Linked DNA regions of Homo sapiens: region 2 is linked to region 1. The links come from fine-mapping of genetic effects on gene expression. A gene starts in region 1. The other region holds a variant in brackets. All regions are shown on one strand. Distances are between the middles of the regions. Region 1 holds the start of AHNAK (AHNAK nucleoprotein). Region 2 holds the start of LOC102723765 (a long non-coding RNA gene).

Region 1 (16,258 bases):
GGCTGTGGCCCTGCTGTCCTGGCACAGCCTGGAAGGACTCCCCTCTCATCTGACCTGGGCCATTCAGTTCCGCGGAAGGGCATGGAAATACTGAAGGGAATACTGAAGGAGGGGCGTGGGATACTGTGTAGCCAGGTTTCCCATTCTCTGCATTTGGGTCCCAGCCCTCAGTCTCTCCTCCACCTCTGGAGCCTGTATCAAGCCCAAGTGGTCCTTTCTTCTCCTCCCACACAAGTTAGGTTAAGTCAGGCTTTCCCTGGAGGCTGAGGGCTCTGCCCTGTTGCTAGCCAAAAGAAGGTCTTTGGAGCTTTGGGGAATTCTGCACGATTCAGCCAAGTGCCATAAGCCTTCAGAGCTAGGAGAGACCTAGAGTTGTGCCACCCAACGCAGCAGCCACATGTGGCTATTTAAACTTAATCAATTAAAATTCAGTTAAATTAAAATTTTAGCTTTGGCTGCACTAGCCACATTTCAAGAGCTCAACAGCCACATGTAGCTACTGGCTACTATATTAGCGTGGACACAGAACACTTCCCCCACTGCCGAGAGTTTTATGGGATGGCACTGCCTGTTACTTAAGGATGGAGAAAGTAAGGTCCAGAGAGGTGAGAGAATGGGAGTGTGCTGGGACCCTAGTCCCAGAGCCTGCTAGCACACAGCCCGGTGGTCCACCCAACAGCCTCCCTCGTGATAGCAAGAAGCGGGACAGAGCTAGGCGTGGTGGCTCATGCCTGTAATCCCAGAACTTTGGGAGGCCAAGACACACTGATCGCTTGAACCCAGGAGTTTGAGACCAGCCTGGGCAACATGGCAAAACCCTATCTCTATAAAAAATAAAAATGTATTTTTTTTAAATAAAAAAAGAAGGAGCAGGGCCAGAGTGGAGACCCCCTAAGGCAGAAGACTGCTTGGAGGGCAGAAAAGAATGAGATGGCGAGGCCGCTCCAGCTGCAAAGGTGAGAGCACGTATGCCTGACGCTGCGGGACAGACTGTAATTCAGGCCAGAAGCAGCAAGAGAACAGCCCATCCTGTCACTTCAAAACTGCAAAGAGGATGTGCCGAGCAGCAGGGCTCTGCCCATACCCTGCAACTGGGGACAACGCCAAGTAGACGCAGAACTCCAGGAAGCAGATTCTTGACCCCAGCAGATGGCCTCTGCCAGGGGTGACCTCCAGAGGAGCCTCCTTCCTCCACTGCCCTCGGAGAACAGTGCCCCTTCCCCGGAGGAGCCAGTATAAAGACAGCCAGGATGGAAACCGGGCCAACTGCTGCAGCAGCTAGAGACAGCCCTGCAGCCAGCGTCAGTGTGGAGATGACAGGAATTGAAACACACACTCCCCCAGAGACAGGCCACAGGCCTCAGTGCCCAAATGCACCAAACCTGAGGACAAGATACACACCACAGGGGCCCATGACTGTGCATCCACCCAGCACAGGCGGGACACAGGAGGCAACCCTCCGAGGGGAAGAAAATCACCCCATCCGTGGTAGGGAGGGTACCGGCCACAGTGAAACTTCCGCCCAGCATGGCAGCACGCACATAGGCCAATCGACCCACCACACACACAAGGCCAAAGAGAAGCAGTCCTCATCCCAGGAACAAAATGACTCATGCCCAGAGTTAGAGACCCCTACCAGAGGGGAAGCCCCCAACATTCGGAACCAGGAGGAGAGGGAGGCTATTCAGAGAGACACACCCAGAAGACAGTATGGTCTGCTCTCATAAACACTCAACAGGAGGCAAAGAGGAACAGAAAGTTCCATGTTGAAAGAAAAAAAAACCCCACACACAAGTAGAAAGAGAATTCTGCAGAGCGCTCTGATGTGCCAGGGACTGTGTTGGCAACATCCCATGCCTGGGGTCTCATTCAACTCCCAAATGATGATGCTATGTCAAAAGAATTAATATCCTTATTTCAGAGAAGTGAAAGCAGGCCCAAGAGATAAGATGACTTGCCCAAGTGTGAGACAGAGTTGAAATGCAAGCCCAGGAGTCTCTGACCCCCAAGGCCCTTGTTCCAAAGGAACAAGGGTGACATCCCTTCCAGGGCCTGGCCCTCTGAATGGACCCCCGAGGATGCAGCTGCCAGGCTTGTTTAGGAAAAAACATTATGCCACATTCTAACCGGAGCAGAAGTGCGCAGACATCTCAGAGTCTAAGCTGGCATTAACAACTTTTACAAACCCACCTAGCTGATTCTGGGCAGTGTGCAGGGAGGAGGGGCAGGTTAGGGAGGTGGAATTACCAGGAAGAATTAGATGAACATGTTGCAAAACACATGCAACTTGGGCACCTTCAAAGAAAGGCACACAAGCACACACACACACATACACACCATTAGTACACGGAGACCCTCAGCCCCATTCTCCACTCTACACAGCCCAGGGCAGCCTGCAGCCCCAGCCAGCCTTCACCGGCTCACAATAGACAGTTGTCCTGCAGGTCCCTATGCCTGTTTACCTGGCACCTGTGTCCCTTGAGCCTGCACCTCCCCTTGTGTGTGTGCACCTGCCTGGCCTCCTCCCTGCTCCCTGCCCTTAGGAGAGGGAGGCGCCAGCCCAGCCACAACTCCCACCAGGAGGAAGTTTTTCCATCCTTGTCATTCCAGCCCTCCCCTCCCCATCACCCCCTTCCCCTGGCCCCTCACATCATGCTGACTTCCAGGGCAGCCCTTACACCCCAACCTCAGCCAGCTGGTTGCTTTCTGACTCTGCTGTGACGCCTTTCTCCATCTCTCTCTACCCCAGCCACGCACAGCCCCATCCCATGCTACAGTGAGCTTGGAAGCCCTGAAGCTCCAAGCTCTCACTTCCAGCAGCGAGGGAGATTCCCTCTTCCCTCCCTGGCCAGGAGGGACTCTGCAATCCTTGTGAAAGGGGGCTGGGGACAGCCTATGATCCAGTGGGGAGTCCCCACACCTGGACACAGAAGCAGGGAAGAGTGGGCCTTTACCCAGAACCACTGGGATTAAGACACCAACTCTGAGGGTGGCGTCCTATAGGAGAGGGGGTGGAGCAGAACGCTTGGTCTTGCCCTGTGGGGTAGATTACAGTTTGGAAGCTGCCTGTCTGCCCCACCCAAGGCCGGGATCTGGGGAGGGCGCTGCTTGCTCTCCCCCCAGCGGTCGGACCACGCTACTGCAGGGGCGTGGGGCCAGGCCGCTCCGGCTCTGTCGCTGAAGAGCTACCCCCGAGCCCCGCCAGGACACGTAGCTGTAGACGGGATCAGCTCCAGGCACTTCCCCTTCCCCCAGAACCTCCGCTCCAGCCCCCGGGGGACCGGGCAGGATGCCCCTCCCTGACAGGCCGTGTGCAGTGCCTTGCTTAGCCTGCTCAGCTGGGGCCTGCACCCCCAAGGCTGTCCTCAACCTCCCAAAGGCTTCTGGACACAAACTGCGCGTGCGGACATGTCCAGGACCGAGAAACTCACTTCAGTCCTTACCTACAACCCCTACGGGCCCGCAGGAAACCTCCACCACCAGAGCAGAATGCCACTGCCATCCTCTGCCTCCAAGCCCGATGACAACGCAGGCAGAGGTGACACATCCAGGCACGCCACAAGGGGAAGACCTTCATTCACAACCAGTGGGATACTCTCTCACAGGCAATGACACACATCTCACTCAGAGACAAGCTGTGACATGGTGGTCACAAGGACCTAAAGCCACAGTGGGACGACACCTGCAATGCTATCAGTGACCTACCTAAGACTGCCAGCGACAGCTCAGCCACAGCCCTGGTGGGAACTGAGGCCAGCAGGGAGGAAAAGGGGCTTCATTCCTTCGGAATCCTCTTGTGGCCCACCCACGTGCCCCCCACACTCCCTCGGGCACACCCAGGAACGCTGGAAATTGCTCGTGCTCAGGAAGCCTTGGGAGTCCCACCGGATGGCCTGAGCCCAGGGAAATGCCAGCCTGGATGAATCGATGGGGGACGAAGAGAAGTCAGAAGGCCCTCCATCCCTGCCACTGCCACCGCCCAAGCAGCACATTCTAAATCCTCCCCAGCGGCCATCACCCTTCCTCAAACCTAAGCGTGCACAGCACGGTGCCAGCCCAGCTCCGGGGAGAGAAACTTTGGGGCCTCGGGAATGGTGGGGGAGAGAGCCACACTGTTCCCATAAGGAGTAGGACTAGCTCTCCCGGTCTGTCTCTCTGTCTGTCTCCAGGCAGTTCCCAAGTTCTAAAGAAGGTGGTGACCACACCCCAGAGCCCCACACACCCCTCCGCCCCCACGGCTTTGCCCCAACCCCTCAAACCAGCTCCTCAGGCTCAGGGTGACCGGCTCTGCCAGGACCCACCAGCCAATTCCAAGTCGAGCAAAAGAATCCAGCCTGGCAGCACCGCCACCTTTCCCCAGGACTTCCTGAGGGCTAAGATGACTCCGGGGACCCCCAGCCAACTCCGTACCCTGGGCTGACGCTGGACCTTCTCCCTCAACAGGTCCCTGTGTCCCACCCCTGGCCCTGGACCATGTCTGGCTGCCACAAGTCCTCAGCTCCGAGGGGTTGGCTCCTCAAGGAGTTCCCGGACCAGGACCCCTGAATCGCTGCTGTGGGCCTCCATATCAGCCCGCATGACTTATGTGGCTCCCCATGTGTCCCTGTTCTCTGACCAGTGTCCCTGTGCATAACCTCTTAGGGACAAAGGCTTTAGAGAGGGGCTCAGACACCCTCTAACCCACATTCCCACAGCCCCCAAACCCTGCGACCTCTCCTAGCTCCACTCTTACCCTCCCTAGCTCCTCTCCCACCCTCCCTCACCCCAAAGCTCACAGCTCAGAGCAAAGAGGTGCCCCTAACTTGGGGGCTCCCCTGTCCTCCCCATTCTGCACAGGCCACTATCCACGCGGTGGGGGGTGGGTGACCCCGCTGTCCCTAAGGACTGGAGAAGGAAGCTTCCCCCCATTCAGCTTCTGAAAGGAAGTGAGTGCCACACCCTGCCCCTGGGATTTCCCTCACGGGGAGGGGATGAAAGCGAGATCTCTACCCTGAATTACAGCCAGTATAGGTGCAGGGGCCCTTAAACGCCTTCCCCCACTCTCAGCTTCACTGCTGCAGCCCCTCACTGTATTCCACAAAATCAACCCAACACCTACCATGCACTAGGCTGTGCTGGGACGGGCAAGCAGAGAGCAGGAGCCCTGCAATCCGAGGTTGGATTCTAATGAAGACGGGTTCGAAACCAGTATTTACTGAGCGCCCAGCGCTGTGCTGGAGACACAGAGGTAGATATCTCGGTCCCTTTTCCTCCGGAGACTCCGGAGGTCTAAGGACCTGACTGACTTGGGAGGCTCCCACACTGCCTTTCCACAAATCCCCTCCACAGAGCAGGGCACTCTGCAGCGACCGCACGCTCCCTGGGAGCACCTCACTGCCACGGTCGCCGCGGCGGGAGCCACACCCTGCGAAACCGGCAAGCACACACATCGCACACAACCCTCAGTGGCCTCATTGTGCAGAGGGGCCAGAGCCGTTCCCCACCTTGTTGTGGGGCCTCGGCTACAGCTGAGAACACCCATCTGCCCCCTCCGCACCCCTCCCAGCAAGGGGCACAGCCAGCCCTGTTTGGGCCCCTGGAGTCCCTCATGGTCAGCGCCGCCAAGGGGCTGCGCCCCCACATCCCGGCCTGGGCACTGCTGGGGGGCGACCAGCCCTGCCAGGGACGGCCCAGGCCCTCGCACACTGCACACACACACCCCCTCCCCTTGCATGGGAAAGCCTTACATAACACAGCTCTGCACACACCCTAAGCACGCTGCCTTTCCAACTCTAGGCGAGACCTCGCTTCGGGCCCCCTCTCCTGGCGCGCACCGCTGGAGCGCAGGGTTCCAGCGAGCGCAGCTTAGCCCTCCTCCCACGCCAAGCCCGGCTCCTGCCCCCAACTCCCACACACAGCCCCTTCCTCCTCCCCTTTGCCCCTCACCACTCCTCCCTGAGTTCTGGTTTGAATTAGTCACCGGCTCCAACCACCACATTCCTCAGGCTGCTGGCGCCGGGCCAGGCTCTGGGGCGGGGGCCATCCCGCCCGGACGGGTTTGGGAGTTGGGCGGGGGGAAAGCGCCGCCTCCGGAGGGGAAGGGGCGGTCCCGAGGACTGGGCCGCCGCAGCGCACCCCCCTCCTCGCCCACCTCAGCATAGGAATCTCCCTAATTTTGTCCCCCTCCCCACCCATCCCGCTGGGAGGCGCATTGCAAACTTCCAGGTTCCGCGGCCCGAGAGGAAGGTTTTCTGGAGCGGGGAACGCGGAGAGGCAAGGCTAGGGCGGGGCAGCTGGAGGAGGCTGAGGGGCTGGTGGTACAGAACAGGGTGGGGCCTGGACGACTCGGGACGCGGTTAGGGGCAGAGGTGCAGGGAGCGCGGAAGGACAGCCGAGGGGGCGCACGGTGCGGGGTCGCGGAGGCGCGGAGGCGCTGGGGGCCGCGGTGGCGATCTCGGAAATTTCCCCTCCAGTAAACATGGGATACGAACGGAGCAGCCCCCGAGCCACCGCCCCATGCAGGGAGAGGAGGTGGGACAGAGGCCACCAGGCCCGGAACGGGGCGCCCTGCCTTGCAGTGGAGCCAACAGTCCGCCCTCCGGAGAAATAAAGAGTGGAGCAAAGCACTTCGGAGCGATTTTCCAACTTTAACCAACTTGCGCCCCAACTCCAGAGGCAGAACTCCGCTCCCAGAGAGCGACGCGTCGCCGCCCCGGGTGGCCCCGCTTGCTCCAAACTGCTTGAATCCTCACAGTGACACCCCCAACAACGCGCCCTGCCGGAGCACCGCAACCCACCTCCCCGCGACCCGCCCTTGGTGCCCCGGACCCCGATGGCGCCACGGTGCGCCTGGCGCCCCTACCTGAGGGCTCAGCCCCAGGGCACGGCCATAGCCGGCGCGAGGCCCAAGGCTGCGGTGCTGCGGCTACTGGCGGCGACGAGCCCCGTTCCGGGCGGGTCTGGCAGGGCGGGCGGTGCAGTCCCCGCGGCAGAGCAGCTCCGAGTGGCCGGGCCCCCGTGCGCGGAGGCGGCTCTTGTAACTCCGGCTCGGGCGGGCGGGTCTGCCCGGAGCTGTGGGGAGAGGGCGGGGCCGGGCGGGGCCGGAGCGGGGCTGGGACTGGCGAGCGGGGCAGACCCTGGAGGGACCCGGGAGTGGGCTGCTGGGGAGGGGGGCCGCTGGGGGACGCGGGGACATTCTTTCCCCCCCTCCCCGCATCCACTGCCCCCTGTCCTGTCCCGGACCTGGACCTGCTCTCCAACATGTGCACTGTGTGGCTTCATTGGCAAGAAACTCCTGCAGGCTCCCTGGGCTCACCCTCACAGCTGGAACTGCGAATCAACTTATTTTGCAGGAAGGGCCTGGGGGCTCTGAAGGTGGCTGGGTGATTCAGCCGCGACCGTCAGCTTGCTCCGGACCTTTGAGTTTTCTCTCAGCTTAGGCAACTACACTTCAGATCCCAGGCCCCAGCCTCCTTGCTTGGTTCCCAAGCTCCGTGCTGCCGCGCCCATTTCTCGCGTTCTCTCTTTCTGGGGGCCCCTCCGTCCATATCCGCACAGAACTGGCTTGGATTTCCACCCCCCAGGAGCCGGGGTCACCAGTGCCTCGCGCACCGCGGTGCTGCGCAGGCCGCGGGCATACGGGGGTGAGGACCCCGGGCGTTGGACAGCGGACCCGACGCCCACCTTCCTCTCCAGACTCCCGCCCCCAGGAGCCAGAGCCCCAGCGCTTCCTCTGCCTCCCATTCCTTCTCTGAGCGCCGCCCCCGCCTCCCCACTTGCGGGACGCTGAGTCTCCTAATTTACAGCGATTTCCCACAGCCACTTCTAACTACATCGAGATTTTATTAAACGTTTAATGATGGGGTGCGGGGGCCTTCTGGCTACACACTCCCCTCCACACTCCCTTTCTCTTCTCCCTCATGAGTCCTTTTATCCTCCCTCCTAGGTGGCCACCCACTGCCCGCTCCAAGCCAGTTTCCCCTCCTTCCCAAATGCTAAGGAAAGAGAGACCCCAGGCTGGGGAACTAAGGAGACCTGGCCAAGGCAGGAGCGCCCTCCTTGCTGCAAGATCATGAGTGGGCTGGAGCTGAGACCAGCTCGGCCCTGTCCTCTGAAATGGCAAACATGTTTACAGGCTAAAAATACCCAGCAGTCAACTCTGCTGCCAGCCCTGGGGGCTGTGTCCAGGTCCAGTTACCGGCACAGAGTACAGGCCGTGGGGGAGGGAAGAGACAGCCAGAGGAACCACAGACATGGGCACTCATATAATGGACACAGAAAGGTGGAGCCGCATGTGCAGACATCCAGACAGGCAGAGACATGTGAAAACACAAAGCGGAGACTTGGGCACCAGCATTTTCTCTTGCTCTCTCTAATACACACACACAGGTGCCCAGATAATGACTCAACCCCATGGCAGAGGCAGCCTCGCCACAACACATCCCAAGCACACAGTCACAGACTCACACTTTCCCAAGAATCACCTGCTCCCCCATTTTGTTCTGCACCCCTTTCCTAGCACCTACCTTATTTAAAGAAAAAACAAATCTAAAACTTTTGAGCTATAGAACACTTAAAAAAAAATTACCAAGGCCAGGCGCGATGCCTCACACCTGTAATTCCAGCACTTTGGGAAGCCAAGGCAGGTGGATCACTTGAGCTCAGGAGTTCGAGACCAGCCTGGCCAACATAGTGAAACCCCGCCTCGACTAAAAATACAAAAATTAGCAGGGCATGGTGGCGCAGCCTGTAATCCCAGCTGCTCGGGAAGCTAAGGCAGGAGAATCCCTTAAACTTGGGAGGCAGAGGTTGCAGTGAGCCAAGATCGTGCCACTGCAGTCCAGCCTGGGTGACAGAGCGAGACTCCATCTCAAAAAAAAAAAAGTACAATAAAACACAGACTTCTCCCTCCTCCCCTATCACAGTCCCTCTTCCCAAAAGTAACCATTGTTAACAGTTTACCAAAGGATTTTTAACTTTATGGAATGAATCATCATCTCGTTCCTTGAAAGAGCGAATGTTCCCAGTGCATATTAAAACAGGAGTTGATTCACACCTAGGTTGGAAACACAGGGTATCTGCAAAAAGGGCTAAGGGGGCGTGGGGGGCTGCTAGAGCAGAAAAGGAAGAAGAGCACGGAAAGGCGTGGACGCTGTGTCTTCGCCTCGACTGGGCTAGATCGGCCCCCCAGGATCCAAACAGCAGAGGCCAGAGTCCCAGGCTCAGAGCCAACTTATCTGCTCCATTGTTTGTTCTGGCCACCCTCTTGGTCAACAGGGAAGAAGGCAGGAGGGAGAGGTTGGTTTTTGAAGCAGCCCCAGAGCAGAGATCACTGACCAGGTACTTCATTCAGGGATATGAATGTCAAGATTACCTGGTCGGGGGGTAGTTCTGAGGACTGGCTCTTGTCCCATTCCAGACTGGAGGGCTAGAGAAGGCTTAACCTCAACCCTACCCTCTAAAAAACCATGATCCTGACCGGGGGCGGTGGCTCACGCTTGTAATCTCAGCACTTTGGGAGGCTGAGCGGGGGCAGATCATGAGGTCAAGAGATCGAGACCATCCTGGCCAACATGGTGAAACCCCGTCTTTCCTAAAAATATAAAAATTAGCACTTTGGGAGGCCGAGGCAGGCGGATCACCTGAGGTCAGGAGTTCAAGACCAGCCTGGGCAACATGATGAAACCCCGTATCTACTCAAAATACAAAAATTAGCCGGGCATGGTGGTGTGCGCCTGTAGTCCCAGCTACTCGGGAGGCTGAGGCAGGAGAATCGCTTGAACCCAGGAGGTGGAGGTTGCAGCAAGCTGAGATCGTGCCACTGCACTCCAGTCTGACAACAGAGCGAGACTCTGTCTAAAAAAAAAAAAAATGATCCTGCAGGCTGGAACAGAGCTGGGGTTTCCTAAGACTGCCACCTCAGCCCAAGGGAGGGGAATATTTTCAAAAGTTTTCAGTGGTGTTAAGTGGAGAAACGCACACTTTTAGAAACTTCTGCCAACTCTTCTCCTTCTGCCCGCTGGTGTAGCCTCCCCCACACCCCCTCCCAAAACTACCTTAATATGATTGTGTCTGATCCTGCAGCAGCTACTTTCGTTGGTTTTTTTTTTGTTTTGTTTTGTTTTGTTTTGTTTTGTTTTTTGAGAGGGAGTCTCGCTCTGTTGCCAAGCCTGGACTGCAGTGGCGTGATCTTGGCTCACTGCAGTCTCCACCTCTGGGTTCAAGTGATTATCCTTCCTCAGTCTCCCAAGTAGCTGGACTACAGTCGTGTGCCACCATGCCTGGCTAATTTTTGTATTTTTTAGTAGAGATGGGGTTTCACCATGTTGGCCAGGGTGGTCTCGAACTCCTGACCTCAGGTGATCCCTGCCCACTTCAGCCTCCCAAAGCGCTGGGATTACAGGTGTGAGCCACTTTGTCAGGAGCTACTTTCATCTGTCAGCTCATTTAATCCTTGCACACCCTGGGAGGGAGGCACTTAGTGAGGAATGGTCTCAGAAAGGGTTCGTGATTTACCTAAAATCACACAACTCACAGAGGCAAGAGTCAAAGCTTCCGCTAGCATTTAAGCCTCATGAGGACAGGGTTCTTTCTTCTCTGCTGTATGCTTTGTGCCTAGATTAACTGATTTTTTGTTTTGTTTTGGTTTTTTGCTTGTTTTTTTTTGAGACAGTCTCACTCTGTCGCCCAGGATGGAGTGCAGTGGAGCATTCATGGCTCACTGCAGCCTCAACCTCTCAAGCTCAAGTGATCCTCCCACCTTAGTCTCCCAAGTAGCTGGGACTACAGACACACACCATCATGCTCAGCTAATTTTTTTTTTTTTTTTTGGTAGAGATAGGGTCTCACTATGTTGCCCAGGCTGGTCTTGAACTCCTGGGCTTGAGCAATCCTCCCACCTCAGCCTCCCAAAGTGCTGGGATTATAGGTGTGAGCCACCGCACCCTGGCCCCTCATGCCTAGAGCACTGACTGACACATAGCAATCACTCAAGAGCATGTTTCAAATGAATGAATGAACTCCAGGTATAACTGGCTCCAAAGCCCTTGCCTTTTCTACAATAGATAGCATCCTGCATCCCAGGCTGTCACAACTTCCTCTGGCTCTCAGCCCCCAGGGAGCAATTCCTCTACTTGTGGGTCTTTCTTGCAGCTACCCAAACATTTATTGTGTGTCCAATATGGGGTTGGGGAACTGTGGTGGTGGTGGAAGCAATAGAGACCTTGGCAAGATGGAATCCCAGCAAAAAGCTCAGTCCAGGCGGAAACGGCTCCGATACCCCTTTACCTTGTCCTTTGAATTCCTTGGAGGTCCTATGCCTCCAGAGAATTGGAGTTATCTTTCCTACCAGGTAATTTACACAGCTACTCCCCCGCCAGCACCCCCCCGACACACTATGTTTTGGGTGTTTTTGTTGTTTTGTTGTTGTGGTGGTGGTGGTGGTGGTTGTTTTGAGATGGAGTCTAGCTCTGTCGCCCAGGCTGGAGTGCAGTGACACGATCTTGGCTCATCTTGGCTCACTGCAACCTCTGCCTCCTGGGTTCAAACGATTCTCCTGCCTCAGCCTCCCAAGTAGCTGGGATTATAGGCACGCGCCACCACGCCTGGCTAATTTTTGTATTTTTAGTAGAGACGGAGTTTCACCATGCTAGCCAGGCTGGTCTCGAACTCCTGACCTCATGATCCGCTTGCCTCAGCCTCCCAAAGTGCTGGGATTACAAGCGTGAGCCACCACACCTGGCCTGTTTTTTGTTTGTTTTTACACACCATGTTTTATAAGGAGTATTAAGGAGTTCTTTCGGTCCCTACTTTGCAAAGAAAACCTCCATCTTCTCGAAGGTTTAGACTCCTCTGTGATATAAAGTAAAGGCTTTCCTCTTATAAGAGGGAGGTCAGCCCTGCCGCTAGTGCTCCACCACCATTCAGAGGGAGCTGGTACCACAGTGCTCCACACGCACTGCCAAAGCTGGATGAGCTCTAGGACTTGTCATCACAGGGATACCCCAGCTTCCCCAGAAGTGACACTGCCTCCCTGGGGAGTGGGGGAGGTTCCCTGATATGTACCTGTTTTGCGTGTGTGTGTATATGTCAGTTTGTGTGTGTGTGCGCGCGTCTGTAATGAACCTTGGGCTCTTCTGTTGCCAGGCAACCTGCCTCTATTTTGTTCCTATTATGCCTGTTTCCATAGTAACCACAAAGGGGAGCTCTGTGGGCAGGCCCCTGGCCAGGGGATTCCCCTTCCCCTCCCTTCTCTCCACAGTCCCCTTTTCTGAAATCAGCATGTTACAAGGAAGAAAAGAGGTTGACTGCTCAAAGGGTAATCTCAGTTTCTGATCCCAGAAGGCAAATGAAGTGTGTGGTCTGTTTGCAGTCTCTTTAGAAGCAGACTTTTCCCCCCATGAAGGTTCTTTTGCATGATATTCTTAGAAGCAGAAAAATGGGCTGTGCCTGGTGGCTCACGCCTGTAATCCCAGCACTTTGGGAGGCCAAGGCGGGTGGATCACTTGAGGTCAGCAGCTCGAGACCAGCCTGACCAACCTGGTGAAACCCCGTCTCTACAAAAAATACAAAATTAGCCGGACGTGGTGGTGCACGCCTGTAATCCCAGCTACTCGGGAGGCTGAGGCAGAAGAATTGCTTGAACCTGAGAGGCGGAGGTTACAGTGAGCCGAGATTGCGCCATTGCACTCCAGCATGGGCAAGAAGAGCAAAACTCTGTCTCAAAAAAAAAAAAAAAAAAAGCAGCAGCAGCAGCAAAGAAATGACTGTTAACCCTTCTTAGCACCATCTGGGATCTCCCAGACCCCGCCTCCACCCCATACACACACCAGCCCAGGGATTAGCATCCCTGCCAAACAGGCCCTTCTCCATTCACTTCCGTCACTTCCTAATCTGTCATTGTCCACCCCACCCCCCAAAAGCAAATCTATCTGGTGATTCTGGAATCCAAACATTATTTCCTAAGCAATTCTCAAGCCCCAAACCCTTAACCCTAGCCGAAAATATAAAGCCAAGTAAAATCATCCTTCCCCAGCTCAATTCAAATCCCAGCCTGTATTTAAACTTCAAGCTTCAAATAAGGAGTTCCTGAATTTCTTAGATCAGAGAGCTTTGATACACAGAAACTCTCCAATTACACTCAGTCCTAATGAAATCTTCAAGCCCAACCAGAACCCAAGTTAAAGCTGGTTAGAGAACAAGAGACATGAGGCTGTCTCCAGAGTACCGTCTGGGAGGAAAGAAGGCAAAGAAAGACTGTCCAGGCAGGTGGAAGGGAAAGAAATTGGGCAGGGAGAGTGGGGCAGGTGGACACGATGGGTCATGGCTGGATTTCAGGCAGAGTTAGGGGTGTGGGAATGCTGTGGGGCAATAAGAGGAGATGCAGACCTGAGATTAAGGAAAAGAAGCGACAAGACATGAGGCTGTGAAGGAAGGAGGGAGGGAGAGAGAGAAAACAGAAGAGCTCAGCACTGAGCTAAGGACTGGGCGGGCTGAGTTGTAAACAGGAGCCGAGGGAGGGAGTTGGAGTAAACGGAGCAGCCAACGCCCCAGCCAGCTCCCCTCCCCAGTGGGGAGCAGGGAGGGAGGGGCTGAGGAAGCGGGGAACACCACCTCCTCACCCCTTTCTTGGAATCTGCTTTTCTCCTGTCCTTTCCAACTTCCTCTGCCTTTCCCCCAGCTTCCTGGGGAAAGAGAGACCAGCCTGGGTTTCCCTCTCTCCTCTGCTTACAGTTCCCTAAGTCCAGTTGAAGGAGATCAGGCTGAGCAGGGAAGGAAGGGCCTAGGCTGCCCAGAGCCTGAGTCACCACATAGTTGAGGTTCCTGTCACTCGAAGTCCCGCCTCTGTTACACTCCGTGCCCTGTGCCCGCCCCAGGACTTGGATCGCTACATCTGACCCTGGCCCCAGGGCTGGCTCCACTTCCACGCTCCTTACCAAGCTACCCTTACCAAGCTACGGGTGCAGGAAGCCTTTAGATGCCTCGCTCTCCCTGCCCCTCCACACTTGGTATGCTGTGTCCACCACCCTTATCCCTCAGCATTTGAGGGCAGCATCCTCCTGCTCAGCTTTGGAGCAGAAGTGACTCAGTGAGTGACTGCAAGGATTGTGGAAAAGCTCGGATGCACCCTTGATAAGTCACTTCAACTCTCTGGGCTCCAGTTTCCCCACTGGTAAAATAACGGGTTATTAGAGACGGTCTCTGGCAGTCCCTGCAAGAGGTACATTCTGTATGTCTGAGTCAAAGAGATGGGTAATTACTATTGAAGAGTGGGATAAAAGGGGCGTGTTTGCTAACCCCTGTCCTAACAGTAAGAGTGGGTAGGGTAGGGCAGGGCTGGGCACAGGACCTGCCACCATAGGGCAGCCAACACCCTAGGCATCTTGGTGACTCAGGTCCCACATGGAAGAAGAGCCGGAAAGCACCCCTTGGGTCCCCTGTGAGTCAGGGGAAATGCGGATCTCCCTGAAGGATGACTGCCTGGGTTCCCGCTATAACCAACTATCCTTCCACCTTGAAAGTCTCCCAGGATGGGTACCGTAAGCTCATCATTCCACCTCCCTGGCCTGCTCAGCAGCTTCCACCCCTCCTGCCTGACCTTGGCAGCCCTTCTTCCCTCAGCCCTGAACTCTAGAGCCCTCCTTACCCTCTGACAGCTCCCCCTGCCCTACCACATTCCCTCCTTCACCCCTTGGCTCTGCCCATCTTCACCATCCACCCCATCCCAGCAGAGCCCGCCAGATGATTGCAAAAGGGCTGAGCCAGCAGAGAGGCCTTCACATGACAGCTGTTCCTGCTGCAGAGGGGAGGGGGCAGCTGGGAGTGGAGGCACATTCCATGGGAGATCCTATCAGAAATAGCCCCAAACCCTAACTGACCATCTGCCCCAATGATCTGCACATCGCCCATTCAATAGGCTTGCCTCAAAATCCTGAGGAAATCAAGAAAACAAAGAGGGGTGGAGAAGGGAGGGGCCTAGGGGAGTGAAGAGAGCCCAGGAACATTGAGACGGGGTCGCCAGGACATCACCACTGAGCCAGTACCACCAGCCCAAGGTATTCTCCCTCTAATGGGAGATGCAACTGATGGCAGTGCTGCCCTCCAGCACCCCCCACCATACCCTACTCCACCCATCCCTTGGGTGCTGAGGCACTGGGACACCCCAGTAATTCCCCTGGAGTAAAACAACAGCCTGCTCTGGGAGCCATGCCAGCCTGACTGGAGCAAACAGACAGGAACAGGTGGCAGTTTCTGTAACCTTTCAGGAGCACCAATGTGAGCTCCACAGCACTAGAGGAAGAGAACGGGGTGGGAACCCCAGAATCACATTCAAACATACAGGAGCAGGCCAGGCACGGTGGCTCACGCCTGTAATCCCAGCACTTTGGGAGGCCAAGGCGGGTGGATTACCTGAGGTCAGGAGTTCGAGTCCAGCCTGGCTAACATGGTGAAACCCCATCTCTGCTAAAAATACAAAAAAAAATTAACAGGCATGGTGGCACACACCTGTAATCCCAGCTACTTGGGAGGCTGAGGTGGGAGAATTGCCTGAGCCCGGGAGACAGAGGCTGCAGTGAGCCGAGATCATGCCACTGCCCCTCCAGCCTGGCCAACAAAGAGAGACTCTGTCTCGAAAAAAAAAAACAAAAACACAGGAACACAGCAAGTGGGGAAAGTCAGTGCCCTGCAGTGCCCTATAGGTACACTGGTTGGAGGAGCTGGGGAAGCTACAGCACCCAGAAAAATCCATTTGATGTGTGGAGGGAAAGTTCTGAGTTGACAACAAAGAGTGCCCGTTGCCATGAAAACCACAGTATTAATTTCAGAAATGACTGGGTGGAGCCTCCAAAGCACTTCATTCCCCTCCCTTCAACATTCTAGGCTTCCCCCACCTTTCAAAAGGGGAAGTGGCACATTTGGGGCATGTGGGCAGCTGGTGGGATGGGTCCGACCCAGTGAGAGCAGCAGCTGTCCAGCTCCAGCTCAAAGCAGGGCACGAAAAAAAGGAAACAATATAAGTCTTTCTTGGAAGAACTTTAAAGGTTTTTAACTTTTTAATAAGTGACTTAAGCAGAAGTGCCAAAAAAGCTAAGATAAATAGCTGCTTATAACCAGTATCTACTGGTTTATCTACAAACTAACCAAGTCTCTCTCAGCCCCTCCCATTCACACTCCAGGCTCTGTAAAGATTTTATCTGAGTCAACTGCAGCCCTGAGCCCCGACCCCTTCTCCAGTTTCTCTCACCCTCCCTCTGTGGAGGTTCTGAGATTTTGCCCAGTA
Region 2 (16,258 bases), 120 kb before region 1:
GTAACCAGCACCTTTCACGTCACACTGGTTAGAAGTGGCTTCCCCAAGTGGGGCTGCAGGATTGCCCCAGTTTTCAGACCTGTTTCTAATCCAGAGAGGAGAGTCACAGTGCCACTGTCCCCAGGCAGGCAGCACAGTGATCTTTCTAGACATCTCCTCTTCCTTTTTTTTTTTTTTTTTTTTTGAGACAGAGTCTCGCTCTGTCGCCCAGACTAGGGTGCAATAGCACGATCTTGGCTTACTGCAACCTCCACCTCCCAGGTTCAAGCGATTCTCCGGCCTCAGCCTCTTGAGTAGCTGGGATTACAGGCACCCACCATCATGCCGAGCTAATTTCTGTATTTTTGTAGAGATGGGGTTTCACCGTGTTTGCCAGGCTGGTCTCGAACTCCTGACCTCAGGTGATCCACCCGCCTCAGCCTCCCAAAGTGCTGGCATTACAGGCGTGAGCCACCACGCCCAGCCTCCCCTTACTATTTTGTAAGAGGCTTTTGAGAAACAATCCAAGCCCTTACTACCTTAGTTCCTCCTAGAGTTGACTGCACCTCTCGGTTAATGTTGAAGTTTCTGTGGCTCGTCATCTCTGCCTAACTATGCAATTCATTCACTGTTGTATTGGGTTTTTCTGTTTCTTTGTCTATTTGTTTTAGGAAAAAATAGCCCAAAGCTCACTGTGTAATTAGCATTTAGAAGCTGAAGATCCCCAACTGCTCCAGCCTCTGCCGCTGCCATGCTTTGAGTCCACGCCCACCAGCCTTGCTCTCTTCAATAAACCACAAGCATCTCACTTTTGTGCCCCCTGCGTGGTTTTGGTCTCCTTGTTATGGTGGGGGGTCTGCCCCTGTCAGGGTAAGGTGAGCCAGGACAAAAGGAAAGCAGCCGAGCTCTGCCCTTGGATCCCAGCAGAAATCTCTGTGCTCTTCCAAAGCTCTTTTCCTCTAGGTTTCTGCCTCCAACAGAGCTCAAGCCCCCTCCCCTTATATCAGACCATCTACTCAACATCACAGACTCTACTCAACATCACAGACTCCACTTGTCCAACAGAACCAGTGATCCTGCCCCAGTCTGTTCCTATCTCAGTGAGTTCTGGCTCCATCCTCCCCGCTGGGCTGCACCAGCCTGAGGAGCATCCGCGATCCTTCCTTCTCTAGCCAACCCAGGCTACCTCTAAAGGGCCTCTGGAATCCTTCACTCCAAGTCCACAGGCAACACCCCCATCCCTGCCTGTACAGCCCCCGGGGCCTCCTCTCTGGCTCCCAGCCAGACTCCAGGGCCCCCACAATCCCTTCTCCAACAACCCAAAGGAATTCTTCTCAAGTGCAAAGTCCCTCCCCATCCTTCAAAGCTTTCTAGGGCTCTTATTGTAAAATCCTAAATCCTGACGATAGATAGTGGCCCCTCACCAGTCTTTCCTGTGCTCCTCCTTCCCACGGCTCCTTCATTCTGCTCAGTCCCCACACACACCCCCACCTTCCCTGCCCTCAGTTTTTAAAAAGAGCCAAGCCCCTTTCAACCTTAAGACCTTTGTACCAGCCACACAGCCCTGGCTGCTCAAAAAGTGTGGCTGATGGCCAGGCACGGTGGCTCACGCCGGTAATCCCAGCACTTTGGGAGGCCAAGGCGGGAGGATCACCTGAGGTCAGGAGTTCGAGACCAGCCTGGCCAACATGGTGAAACCCCATCTCTACTAAATATACAAAAAATTAGCCAGGTATGGTGGTGCGTGCCTGTAATCCCAGCTACTCGGGTGGCTGAGGCAGGAGAATCACTTAACCTGGGAGGCAGAGGTTGCAGTGAGCTGAGATCGTGACACTGCACTCCAGCCTGGACAACAAGAGTGAAACTCCATCTCAAAAAAAAAAAAAATTGTGGCTGATTGGTTTTTAAAATTGCTCTAGAGCAAAATGTGCAAAGAATAGAACTCATCCTAAAGATGCATCCATGTGGATATAAAGACCCCCAAATCCCCGGCCAGTTTCATGGCAGCCAGCCCCCTGCTGGGCCACATTATCCACAGCACCTAAATAGAAGCGGAGGATTGGCTGGGCTTGGTGGCTCATGCCTGTAATTCCAGCACTTCGGGAGGCTGAGGTAGGAAGATGGCTTGGGCCCAGGAGTTCAAGACCAGCCTGGCAACATAGTGAGACTCCATCTCTACAAAAATAAAAATAAATTAGCCGAGTTTGGTAACGCATGCCTGTAGAGCTGGCTACTCTGGAGGCTGAGGCAGGAGGATCTCTTGAGTCCAGGAGTTCCAGGCTGCAGTGAGCTATGATCATGCCACTGCACTCCAGCCTGGGTGACAAAGGTGAGACCCTGTCTCAAAAGGAAAGAAAGAAAAAGGTGGAGGACTGCAGAGGGGCTGCAGGAATCGGAAGGGCGTCGGCAGAGGGCACGGAAGGAGGCGGCGGGTTAGAGACGGAGCTCTCCAGTTCGAGCCCCTCCATGGAGCAACGTGGTCCGGTGGGCCTTGTGCCCCGCGGCCACTAGGGGGCAGCATCGTCCACAGGGTCCTGGAGCGGACGCGCTGTCGGGGCTGAGGCACCCAGAGCTCCGGCTCTGAGGATCTGGTGTCATCCGTATAATTTTTTAAATCTCGGCCGTGCGCGGTGGCTGACTCCTGTAATCCCAGCACTTTGGGAGGCCGAGGCGGGTGGATCACCTGAGGTCGGGAGTTCGAGACCAGCCTGTCCAACATGGTGAAACCCCATCTCTACTAAAAATAAAAAATTAGCTGGGTGTGGTGGCGCGCACCTGTAGTCCCAGCTATTTGGGAAGCTGAGGCAGGAGAATCGCTTGAACCCAGGAGGCGGAGGTTGCAGTGAGCCGAGATCGAGATCGCGCCACTGCACTCCAGCCTGGGAGGTTGCAGTGAGCTGAGATTGTGCCATCGCACTCGAAAAAAAAATAATAATAAAAAATATATATATATAAAATAAAAATCTCATATTTTGAAAGTTTTAAAATCCGAATTCTGAGGGAAAACAGGGGCAGCCACACAAACCATGTTGCCACCCGGTTGAACCCTGCCAGGGAGTGATGTGTCAGCCTTTTTGGGATTAGCAATAATTCCATTCCCAGACGATTTCAAGGGCAAGGTTCATGGAATCTAGAACTTGAGATGGCCCCAAAGGTGGAGAAGACCATGCGGAGCTGGCGGGGCTGGCCTTTGACCTCCACCTGCCCGGTTTCTAAAGTCCCCAGGCAGAAACCACAACCCAATAACCCTTATTGATTGCTTAGGTGCTGGCAGGCGCTTTCGCAATCTTTTTTTTTTTTTTTTTTTTTGAGATGGAGTCTTGCTCTGTCTCCAGGCTGGAGTGCAGTGGCATGATCTCAGCTCACTGCAACCTCCAACTCCCTGATTCGAGCAATTCTCCTGCCTCAGCCTCCCGAGTAGATGGGATTACAGGCTCCTGCCATCATGCCTGGCTAATTTTTGTGTTTTAAGTAGAGACAGGGTTTCTCCATGTTGGCCAGGCTGGTCTCGAACTCCTGACCTCAGGTGATCCACCCGCCTTGGCCCCTCAAGGGCTGGGATTACAGGCGTGAACCACCGCGCCCGCCCTCAGCCAGTAGTGGTTTTTTGTTTGTTTGTTTGTTTGTTTGTTTTTGAGACGGAGTCTTGCTCTCTCGCCCAGGCTGGAGTGCAGTGGTGTGATCTTGGCTCACTGCAAGCTCTGCCTCCCGGGTTTGCACCATCCTCCTGCGTCAGCCTCCCGAGTAGCTGGGACTACAGGCGCCCGCCACCACGCCAGGCTAATTTTTCGTATTTTTAGTAGAGATGGGGTTTCACGGTGTTAGCCAGGATGGTCTTGATTTCCTGACCTCGTGATCCACCAGCCTCGGCCTCCCAAAGTGCTGGGATTACAGGCGTGAACCACCGCGCCGGGCCTTGCAATCTCTCAATTACTCCTCACACAACCCAGATTCCAGAGCCCGTGCCCCAACCCCTGCCCTGCAGGTGGTGGTGGGATCCCTAATTCCAGAATCCCCAGAGCCAAAAATCCAAATGATGGTGATGAGCAAAGTCCACCTACCCCCAAACACACACTCACACACACAAACTAGAAAGCCACCGTGCCCTTCATTTTCAGCCACGAAGGAGGGGATCTGATTGTAAAAATTCCGGAGCAGGTTGGGGGACTGGCAACTCCAAAAGAGATTCCTTGCCTCCGGTGGGGCCTTGATGGGGGCTGCCCAGCTCCCTCTCCTCCCCCACTCCCTCCCTGCTGAGGCATCACATTCTCCTTCACCAGGTCATCCTAAAGCACATACCTTTGCGCTGGTGGGCCATCCGCCTGGATGAGTATTGTTTCATCGGATAAGCTTCCAGAGCCATAAAAGGTTCAGAATTTTAATTGCCTATTCACAGCCAAGGGAAACATTTACCCAGGGCCAATGCAAGGCAGGTATCTGAGGAAAAGAAGCACAATTACGGTGCAGAGAGGCTTGAGGCTGGGGACAACACTGCAGGAATCACTGTGGGTGATTCACAAGAATGTGGGCTATGCCAATCCACAGAAATGGGCGTTAAATTTTAAAACAGCAGAATGCAAAGATAAACTGATTGCAACCACAGGAAGAGCATGTAACTGTGTGATGCATGTTGACAGAAAGCAGGAAATTCGAGAAATGAAGGCACTGTTCACTGGGTGCTTTTCTGTCTGTGTGTAGTTACTCACACCAGTTACTCGTGTATTATAGCATGGGTCTGTAGACTATGGCCAGCAGGCTAAGCTCAGGCTATGGCCTATTTTTTTTTTTTTTTTTTTTTGAGACGGTTTCTCACTCTGTGGCCCAGGATGGAGTACAGTGGCGCAATCTCGGCTCACTGCAACCTCCACCTCCCAGGTTCAAGTGATTCTCCTGCCTCAGCCTCCCAAGTAGCTGGGATTACAGGCGCATGCCACCATGGCTGGCTAATTTTGTATTTTTAGTAGAGACAGGTTTCACCATGTTGGTCAGGCTGGTCTTGAACTCCCGACCTCAGGTGATCCGCCCACCTCAGCCTCCCAAAGTGTTGGGATTACAGGCATGAGCCACCGTGCCTGGTCATTTGTTTGTATTCTTAGTAGAGACGGGGTTTCACCATGTTGGTCAGGCTAGTCTCAAACTCCTGACCTCAGGTGATCCACCCGCTTCGGCTTCCCAAAGTGCTGGGATTACAGGCTTGAGCCACCACGCCCCGCTAAGACCACATTTCTTGATCACATTGTCAAGAAAACTGAATCTGAGTGAAAAACTTTTTGAAAGTATCTGTTAACCCTGAAATCTGCAACCAAAGGAAACTTACTCTGGAGGAAAGCTAAAGCAGAATGGTAGTTGTCAAACACCGCCATCACGTTGCAAAATCCAGGGGCTTGTGTCAATGTGCCTGGACTAATTGATCAGTAGGAAAGCTGCCGTTGTGTATGAGAGACAGTTGAGGTTAGCCTGACAGAAATATCTGTAAATGACTCATGAGGCAGGAAGAAGAAGCAAAACCAGCCTTCATTAGCCTTATCACGATGATATGGATAAAATTATGTCTAGTTTGCAGCTGATGCAAGCCCTGCTGTTTTCGAAAGCCAAGGGATTTGTGGGCAGTAATCACCATAGGGGTGTCTGCCACTCAAAATGGCTTCAGATAGACGATCAAGAGAAGTTTTATTGATGATGATGAGGCCACACAAACAATGCATTCTGAAACATGTAATTAGGGGATGTTCCTCCCAAGCACTTTCAGAATACACCAACAGGCACATGGGGATAATGTGAGGATGAATCATCAGTAGTTAGCCACCCAACATATTTCCATGAGCAAACTAAAATTATAAAACTATAGTACATGCAAAAAAATCTGAAAATAGACTGGGCACGGTGGCTCACGCCTATAATCTCAGCACTTTGGGAGGCCGAAGCAGGCGGATCACCTGAGGTCGGGAGTTCGAGACCAGCCTGACCAACATGGAGAAACCCTGTCTCTACTAAAAATACAAAATTAGCCAGGCATGGCGGTGGGTGCCTGAAATCCCAGCTACTCGGGAGGCTGAGGCAGGAGAATCGCTTGAACCTGGGAGGCAGAAGTTGCAGTGAGCCAAGATCGCACCATTGCACTCCAGCCTGGGCAACAAGAGCAAAACTCTGTCCCCAAAAAAAAAAAAATCTGAAAATACATTTAGCTAAGCTAGCATGGGAATTGATTGCCAGCTTGGGAATTGATAAACCGGGGGTTTGGAACTCAGATTTGTTACCCCATCAAGTGAATGGATTCCCAGCTAATCACAAGAGTCTAGTTAACTCTGAAAATACCTGCAGTTATATGCCCATAGCTGTAACTGCCCGGTGGGTTCACCTTGCTCGCTGCCTGGACGGAGCCAATTTATCAAGACAGGGGAATTGCAGTGGAGAAGGAGTAATTCACACAGAGCTGGTGTGTGGGAGACTGGGTTTTATTATTACTCCAAACAGTCTCCCTGAGCATTCGGGGATCGGGGTTTTTAAAGATAATTTGGCGGGTAAGGGCTTGGGAAGCAGGGAGTGCTGATTGGTCAGGCTGGAGATGGAATCCTAGGGGGTGGAAGTGTGGTTTTCTTGCTGTCTTCTGTTCCTGGGGAGGATGGCAGAAATGGTTGAGCCAGATTACCAGTCTGGGTTGTGTCAGCTGATCCATCGAATGCAGGGTCTGCAAACTATCTCAAGCACTGATCTTAGGTTTTACAATAGTGATGTTATCTGCAGGAGCAATCTGGGGAGGCTCAGACTCTTGGAGCCAGAGGCTGCATGACCGCTAAACTAAATTTCTAATCTTGTAGCTAATTTGTTAGTCTTGCAAAGGCAGACTGGTCCACAGGCAAGAA[T/C]GGGGTTTTTTTTAGGGAAATGGCTATTATCAATTTTGTTTCAGAGTCAAAACATGAACTGAATTCCTTCCCAAAGTTAGTTCAGGCCTATGCCCAGGAATGAACAAGGACAGCTTAAAGGTTAGAAGGAAGATGGAGTCGGTTAGGTCTGATCTCTTTCACTGTCATAATTTCCTCAGTTGTAATTTTTGCAAAGGCGGTTTCACAGCCACCCTGTGTGTGTAACCACGAGGCAGATACCTACAGAGCTTCCTTTAGAGTTCCCTCTTAGGGCTGGGTGCAGTGGCTCAAGCCACTGTGGGAGGCTGAGGCAGGCGGATCACCTGAGGTCAGGAGTTCGAGACCAGCCTGGCCAACATGGCAAAACCCCATCTCTACTAGTAATACAAAAATTACCCGGGCATGATGGCGCATGCCTGTAGTCCCCGCTACAGCTGAGGCAAGAGAATCACTTGAACCCAGGAGGCAGAAGTTGCAGTGGCAGAGGTTGCAGAGGCGGAAGTTGTAGTGAGCCGAGGTTGCAGTAAGCCGAGATCACACCACTGCACTCCAGCCTGGGTGACAGAATGAGACTCCATCTCAAAAATAAAAATGAAAAAGAATTCCCTGTTAGGCCCCTGTCACAAAAGTAGGTACTAATCAGCCCTGGGACAGGATAGAGACTTGATCAGAGGCTCCCTGGGAGCTGTGGAAGGAGGAGCAGGCCTTGGGGCATCAGGAGAGGAGAAAGGGTTGCTGGGCTGGGGGATCTCCTGACCTCCTGACCTTAGGCGTCCAGTCGGTCTCTGAGTCCATCTCAACTTACATGGAATTGATCCCTTTATTTTTTTTTATTTATTTATTTTTGAGATAGGGTCTCACTCTGTCACCCAGGCTGGAGTGCAAGGTTGCAATCACTGCTCACTGCAACCTCCGCCTCCCAGGCTCAAGCAATCCTCCTCCCTCAGCCTCCTGAGTAGCTGGGATGACAGGCGCACACCACCATGCCCAGCTAATTTTTGTATTTTTTTTCATAGATACGGGTTTTCGCCATGTTGGCCAGGCTGGTCTCAAACTCCTGGACTCAAATGATCTGCCAGCCTCTGCCTCCCAAAGTGTTGGGATTACAGGCGTGAGCCACCGTGCCCAGCCCTTATCCCCTTCTCTTGACCCTATTGCCAATTCCAAGCCTTCACCATCTGTGACCTGGATCATTGCAAACAGCCTCTACATTAGTTTCTATGGCTGCTGTAACAACTTACCACAGACTTAATAACTTAAAAACACACAAATTTATGATCTTCTCGTTCTGGAGGCCAGATGTCTGAAATGCATTTCACTGGGCTAAAAACCAAGGTGTTGGCAGGCTGCATTCTTTCTGGAGTCTCCAGGGGAGAATCTGTCTCCTTGTTTTTTCCATTTTCTAAAGGCCACCCGCATTACTTGGCTCATGGCCCCTTCCCCATCTTCAAAGTCAGCAGGGCAGCCTCTGCAATTCTCTCTCCGACACTGATCTCCTCTTCTGCCTCCCACTTCCATTCATAAGGATCTCTGTGATTACACTGGGCCCATCAGATACTCCAAAACAACCTCCCCTCTCACGGTCAGCTGATGAGAAACCTTCATCCATGTGCAACCCTAATTCTCTCTTGCCAGGTAACCTAACACATGCACAGGGTCTGGGGATTAGGACGTGGAGATCCTTGAGGGGCCGTTAATCTGCCTCCTAAATAGTCTCTAAGATTTTAGTCTTACTTCCTTCCCATGATTGCCAAAAATCAAACAGGAAGTTCATGCTTTTGCTTAAAATCCTTCCCTCTTCCTGGTCCCCTGTTGGATAAAGTCCAAACCCCTCACCCATCATCAAAGGCTCCTGGAGATGGTGGCCCTGCTTCCCACTGTGGCCTCAAATCCTGCTGCTTCCCACCTACCCTTCACTTTGAGGGTGCAGCAGTGGATGATGCTCGGAAATAAAACTGCCCTCTGAGTAAGGCTTGTCGATTCATGTCGAGGCACAGACGTTCACATTTGAAACAGGCAACAAATCCATGCCATTCACACTTCCACACTTTTGCAGAAACAGTTCCCGCTAACTGAAATGCTTTCCCTTCCCAAAGTCCCTGGAAGAACCAAACTCCATCCTTCATGACTCACTTGGGACATGCTTATACTAAAAATTGTTTCATTATTTATCTAAAATGCACACTTAACGGGCATACTGTATTTCATTTGCTAAGTCTGGCCCCCTTCAGATTCTTTCACGACTTAGTCTGTGGGCTCTTTCTCCCTGTTCTCCCTACCCAGCACTTTGTGCCCTGAGGTTCAGGGGCTCTTTCTGCTGCTGAGCTTCCACGCCCCTAATCTGGGGCATGTATTTACAGTGGGATAAATCATGTATTTATCTTACTATAGCATGTTTGCTTCTAACTGTTGCCTTCTCTAGAATGTGAGTCCTATGAAGGCATGATTCACATTTTAGTTATCTTGCCACTCATTGTAGAAAAATTAGAAAACCCAAGAAAGCAAAAGGAAAATAAATCATTCGAATGTACATCTGCGTCAAGTACTTGATCAGAGCAGCAGGATTCTACTTTTGACCCTCTAGTGGAAAAATTGAAACCAAGGTGGAAGCCAAGACAGTAAATTAAGTATATTACAGGACTCGAGACCTTTTTTTTTTTTTTTTTGAGACGGAGTCTCACTTTGTTGCCATGCTGGAGTGCAGAGGTGCCATCCTGGCTCACTGCAATCTCCACCTCCCGGTTCAAGTGATTCTCCTGCCTCAGCCTCCCAAGTAGCAGGGACTACAGGCGCATGCATGCCACCATGCCCAGCTAATTTTTGTATTTTTAGTAGAGACAGGGTTTCACCATATTGGCCAGGATGGTCTCGATCTCTTGACCTCATGATCTGCCCGCCTTGGCCTCCCGACCTTTTTATTCCATCTCTCTGCTTCCAGGAGGACCATATCAATAACCAAGTGGCCCCTGAGACATGACCCTAAACCCCCAAAAAGACCTCCCATTACTCTGTGGCTGACCCATTTGAGGAATTCATATGTTCTGTGGGCAGGAAGTTCTAACCAAAATGCAAAAAAAGTTTGAAGTTCATCGTATTCCGTTGTTCCCTGCTTTTCTGTTTCTAGGTAAAGATGAGATTAGTTGGCCAGGCACGGTGGCTCACCCCTGTAATCCCAGCACTTTGGGAGACTGAGGCAGGTGGATCACCTGAGGTCAGGAGTTTGAGACCCACCTGACCAACATGGAGAAACCCCATCTCCACTAAAAATACAAAAATTAGCTGGGCGTGGTGGCGGGTGTCTGTAATCCCAGCTACTTGGGAGGCTGAGGCAGAAGAATCGCTTGAACCCAGGAGGCAGATGTTGCAGGGAGCCGAGATCACGCCATTGCACTCCAGCCTGGGCAACAAGAGCAAAACTCTGTCTCAAAAAAAAAAGAAAAAAAAAAGATGAGACTCGTTTATGAAACTGGATTCCTCTTAAACCACAAATCCATCTGAATGGTATTCATTTCATGCTTGATAAATTTCAAGACCTGATTATTTTGCAATATCAATGTTGATAAAAGTTAAATATTAACCAGATAATCGAAAGTTATCCTTTAACGTCTGCTACCATAGAATAAGAATTTCAGACTGACCCCCAGTGACAGGAAACTTTGAAAAGGCGTGTGCCTGAAGAAACGTATCGATTGGCATGTTAAAAAATACATGTATTGGCCGGGCATGGTGGCTCATCCCTGTAATCCCTGCACTTTGGGAGGCCGAGGCAGGTGGATCACTTGAGGTCAGGAGTTTGAGACCAGCCTGGCCAATGTGGTGAAATCCCGTCTGTACTAAAAAAAAAAAAAAAAAAAAAAAATACAAAAATTAGCCAGGCGTGGTGGCAGGCCTGTAATCCCAGCTACTGAGGCCGAGGCACGAGAATCACTTGAACTCAGGAGGTGGAGGTTATAGTGAACTGAGATCATACTACTGCACTCTCCAGACTGGGTGACAGAGTGAGACACTGTCTCAAAAAAAAAAAGATTACATTTCTCCTTTTTTAGATAAATAAAGAGGAAAGAGAAAGGGGAGGGGGAGCAAGGGGTGTAAGAGGGAGAAAGAAAAGAGAGAAAGGAGAGAACGCGCGGGGGTTCTCGGTCATGTGGAGGCAGCAGTCATGTGCTGACTCTGAAAACTGAAAAAAAAAAAAAAATAGTGACAGCAAGCTGCTGCCTGTGGCCAACTCTCCCAGGGATTCTCACAACGCCAGGGAAGGGAACAGAGAAAACCACAAAGGTTGACACAAGAACAGATGCTTGATAAATGTTTATTGGATAAACGAGCGAAGGATAATCACCTGAGCACCATAGTTGCCAAAGCCCCCTCTAGTCCCAAACCTAAGCCCACACTCTGTCCCCTTGCAAGTAAAGAAATGCACCAAGCAGGGCTTATGCAGCAGCCCTCGGTCTGGCCTGGCTGGAGCTATAAACATGCATGCTCCGAAAAGCCGCCTCGCGGAAGGTATTCCTTTAACTGCAGGTGTTTGTTGCCCTTGGCACAGCAATATGTAATTTCCCATTTTTAGAACAATGCTCCAAAGAACGGTCACAAAAACAACCTTAAGAGGGGGTGGTTTTCTTCCTGGCCGCTTCTACAGTCCTGTAAAACAACAACAAAGAGATTTATATTCAACACACTATTTGCATCTCTCCATAAAATCAGAAGATGGTTCGTTAACTTTGCACCAACTGAAAGAAGGTCCCCCCACTCCTTGCTAGGGCATCCAAACAAATGCTTGCCTCTGGAAGGGATAGATTTGGAAAGGATCCTGCTGTTGGGTCTCTTTTGGTCTTGCCACGCCTCCCTCTGTGTGGTTTCTGTGCGGCAAGGGTGGAAAGGAAGCTTGCATAAAGCCCGAGTCTGTCCTTTTGGTGCCCCCCATACAAGCCCGAGACCAGAAGAGGACAGTGTGTTCCCAAGAACATTCAAATAACAGAGGAAGGTAGGAACCGTGAAAACAGCTGCCACCTCCAGCCTCAGCCATTAAGAAATCCCTTTCATTATCATCTCCAAACTGACTTTCTCTCTTCCCTTTCCTCTTCATGAACCCTTTCTGCTTCATGAACCCAAGCAACTGGCTTTGAGACTTCATGGCCCTTCACCTTCCCTCCCTGTCGTCTCCCAGAGCCTAACTACTACATCTTCTGTCCCAGCCCAGTGCCTCCTCCCCGAGTCACACCCAACTCATCCCCATCGGACTCCCATGAATGCGCAGGTTGTCCTCTCATGGGCCTCCTGGCCTGGTCTCTCTCACCTCCCACGTGGGCCTGCATGCCCCAGGCTTCATCTTACACCTCCTGCGCTCAAGAAAGTTCAGCAACTCCTTTTCCAACAGAAACAAATCCAGCTTTCGGGCCAGGCGCAGTGGCTCACGCCTGTAATCCCAGCACTTTGGGAGGCCGAGGCAGGCGGACCTCCTAAGGTCAGGAGTTCAAGACCAGGCTGACCAACATGGTGAAACCCTGCCTCTACTAAAAAGAAATACAAAAATTAGCCGGGTGTGGTGGCACACACTGTAATCCCAGCTACTCAGGAAACTAAGGCAGAAGAATCACTTGAATCCGGGAGGCAGAGGTTGCACAGTGATCCAAGATCCTGTCACTGCACTTCAGCCTGGACAACATGGCAAGACCCTGTCTCAAAAAAAAAAAAAAAAAAAAAAGCCAGCTTTCTTAATGGGACCTCATCTGGAACCAGGCCTCCTTTCCTACTTTATCTTCTACTAGTCCCTACACAAGTTTCAAGCACCAACCAAAATCACCTGCTCACCCTTCCCAAACTTTACCTTGGCTCCTAAAAACTACCTCCTGCCCTCCCCCTAATTGAGAATGACCTTCCTGGTCTTCTCTCTGTGACTAAATCCTACCCATTTTTGAAGACTCAGCCAAATAATACCACCATCTGACCACTCTAGTTCAAAATGCCCCCCTTTCCTTGCTGAAGTCCTGCAATTCTGCCCCATTTATTCACTATATGTTACACTTTGTGAAGAAACCATTCACATAACTTCTTTCTTCCAAATGTGTGTTGAATTATTTAGAGGGCAAAGGTGCTAAGCCTCTTTAAGAGGCTTGGAAGGAATTAGGCACCAGGAAAGTGAAAGCTTTATTTATTTATTTATCTTTTTTTTTTCTTTTTGAGACGGAGTCTCGCTGTTGCCCAGGCTGGAATGCAGTGGCGCGATCTTGGCTCACTGCAGGCTCCGCCCCCCGGGGTTCCCGCCATTCTCCTGCCTCAGCCTCCCGAGTAGCTGGGGACTACAGGCGCCCGTCACCTCGCCCGGCTAATTTTTTTGTATTTTTAGTACAGACGGGGTTTCACCGTGTTAGACAGGATGGTCTCGATCTCCTGACCTCGTGATCCGCCCACCTCGGCCTCCCAAAGTGCTGGGATTACAGGCTTGAGCCACCGCACCCGGCCTATTTATTTATCTTTTTAAGAGATGGGGTCTTACTATATTGCTCAGGCTGGCCTTGAACTCCTGGACTCAAGCAATCCTCCTGCCTTGACCTCCCAAAGTGCTGGGATTGCAGGCTGGCCGCACCCAGCCAGTTTTGACATTTCTACACTACCTTTTATTGCACACTTGCTATGAACCTGTCGCTGAGCTGAGCACTTCTTACATATGACCGCATTTAACTCTCACAGTGAGACTAGAAGGGAAGTACCACTGTCACTTTTCACAGACCAGGAAACAAAGGCTTTGAGAAGTTAAATAACTACCCAAGAGCCTCACTGTTTAAAAGGAGCAGAGCTGGAGTTCAAGCCTGGCTCACAGTATTGACAGCTCTAGCCCATCCCCTTTCATTCTCAGCGAATTCACAACACAGAACAGTTAGGATGAACAGGGTGGGGAGGAAGTTGCAGGCTCTTTTCCTGATTGGAACAAATTCATGGAAAGGGTTCATAAAGGGGCTGGGCTTCCCAATTCATGTTTTTGTTTTGAAGAAGGTGGGGGAACTTGGGGTTCACACAATGAAGTTCTCTTTAAAGAATGGTGTCTGCAACATCTGATGCTCCGGGGGAGTAGCAGGCAACACAGAGAGCTTTGATGCTGTACCAAGATTCACTCTCAACATCCCAAGCCAAGTGGCAACAGTGCAGAATATGGCATTCAAGTCTAACTCCCACACTTACCAGCTGTGATACTCAGACAAGCTATTGTCCCTCTCTAAGCTTCAGTTTCCTCCTCTCTAACAAGAAAAGAATATCATTTTGACAGGTGGTTTGGATAGATTAAGGCAAATAATCTCTATAAAGCAACCAGGCACATATTGGGTGCTCCATAAATTATTATTGTTATTACTTCTCTTGGACATGAAAATCTGCATTTCTTTTCATTAAAAAAAAAAAAAAAGTATAGGCCGGGCGCAGTGGCTCACGCCTGTAATCCCAGCACTTTGGGAGGCCAAGGTGGGTGGATCACGAGGTCAGGAGATCGAGACCATCCTGGCTAACACGGTGAAACCCAGTCTCTACCAAAAATACAAAAAAAAATTAGCCGGGCATGGTGGCGGGCGCCTGTAGTCCCAGCTACTCGGGAAACTGAGGCAGGAGAATGGCGTGAACCCAGGAGGCGGAGCTTGCAGTGAGCCAAGATCGCGCCACTGCACTCCAGCCTGGGTGACTGAGCAAGACTCTGTCTCAAAAAAAAAAAAAGAAGTATAACATACATTCATCAGAGTACATAAAGCACACAATGGACAGCTTGATAATCATTTTCATAAATAGGCATTTCTATAACCACCACTCCAGGCCACATAAGGAATATTTCCAGCACCCCAAAACGTTCCCTCATGCACCCTCCCAATCCATATCCCCACCAGACAGAATCATGATTTGACTCATTATAGATCAGCTTTGCCTCTTTCTGAACCATATATTAATGGAATCAGAGCATATAATCTTTTCATCATTGCATAGTACTCTTATATGAATAGATCACCAATTTATTTCTCCAATCTTCTGTTGATGGGAATTTGGGGTGTTTCAGGTTTGGAGAAACTTCTTTGAACATTTTTGTACATACATTATTGTCAGCATAGGCACTCAAACCCCTCAGCTTTGTTTTGTTTTGTTTTGAGACGGAGTCTCACTCTGTCTGCCAGGCTGGAGTGCAATGGTGCAATCTCAGCCACTGCAACATCTGCCTCCTGGGTTCAAGTGATTCTCCTGCCTCAGCCTCCTGAGTACCTAGGATTACAGGCACTCATCTGCCACACTCAGCTAATTTTTTTTGTATTTTTAGTAGAGACGGGGTTTCACCATATTGGCAAGGCTGGTCTCGAACTCCTGACCTCAGGTTATCCACCCACCTTGGCCTCCCAAAGTGCTGGGATTACAGGTGTGAACCACCACGCCCAGCCCAAATCCCTTACCCAAATACTTAGGAGTAGAATTTCTGGGTTGTACAGCAGGCATATCTATAGCTTTAATATAATCTGCCAAACAATGTTCCCAGTGGCTGTACCTCTTCCACACTCCCCACAGCAATATGCAATAGTTCTAGTTGTTCCATATTCTCAGCAACACTTGGTATTGTCAGTCTTTTCATTTTAGCTATTATGGTGGGTGTGTAGTAGTATCTTTTTGTGGGAGTTTTGTGTGTCTATGTTGTTCTTTTTTTTTCTTTTGCATTCTGTCACCAAGGCCAGAGTGCAGTGGCATGATCATAGCTCACTGCAGCCTCAAACTCCTAGGCTCAAATGATCCTCCCACCTCAGTCTCCCAAATAACTGGGACTACAGGCTTGTGCCACCAGGCTCAGCTAATTTCCCAGCGCATTTGCATTTTCTGATGAATAATGATGTTGAGCACCTTTTCACAGTGTATTTGGCCATCTGGGTATCCTCTTTTGTTAGTGCCTGGTCAAGTCTTTTTCTTTCTCTCTTTTTTTTTTTTTTTTTCCTGAGACTGAGTTTTGTTCTGTCTCCCAGGCTGGAGTGCAGTGGTGTGATCTCGGCTCACTGCAACTCTGCCTCCCGGGTTCAAGCAATTCTCCTGCCTCGGACTCCCGAGTAGCTGGGATTACAGGTGCCTGCCACCACGTCCAGCTAATTTTTGTATTTTTAGTAGAGACAGGGTTTCACCGTGTTTATCAGGCTGGTCTCGAACTCCTGACAGGTGATCCACCTGCCTCGGCCTCCCACAGTGCTGAGATTACAGGCATGAGCCATCGCACCTGGCCTCTTTTTCTCATTTTTTTAATTGGGTCATTTTTAGTTTTCTTATTGATCTGCAGTACTTCAAATATTTTAGAAACGAATACTTTATCAGACATATGTATTGCAGATATATATCTTCTCCAGGTCTGAGGCTTGCCTTTTCATTTTTTTAATGGTGCCCTTGGATGAAGAGAGGATTTAATTTTGATA

The links.
Region 2: its variant is fine-mapped to the expression of AHNAK in whole blood (TOPMed, PIP above 0.99).

The regions. Positions count from the first base shown.
Region 1 is chr11:62,539,819-62,556,076 of GRCh38, forward strand. AHNAK (AHNAK nucleoprotein) reads right to left here and starts at 6,988. Exons shown (of 5, transcript NM_001620.3): 1 at 6,842-6,988. RefSeq lists enhancers at 1-487, 5,495-6,005, 6,006-6,516, 7,095-7,625, 11,353-12,158 and 4 more and silencers at 5,660-5,789, 6,320-6,439, 6,450-6,499, 6,780-6,849, 6,970-7,139 and 1 more.
Region 2 is chr11:62,422,409-62,438,666 of GRCh38, forward strand. LOC102723765 (a long non-coding RNA gene) reads right to left here and starts at 4,515. Exons shown (of 4, transcript XR_007062699.1): 1 at 4,279-4,515. SCGB1A1 (secretoglobin family 1A member 1) reads left to right here. Exons shown (of 3, transcript NM_003357.5): 3 at 651-787. The coding sequence ends at 683. It also overlaps a transcript of AHNAK not described here. RefSeq lists enhancers at 2,204-2,293, 2,334-2,403, 3,753-4,300, 11,665-12,166, 12,167-12,666. The variant T/C (reference allele first, on the strand shown) is at 6,843.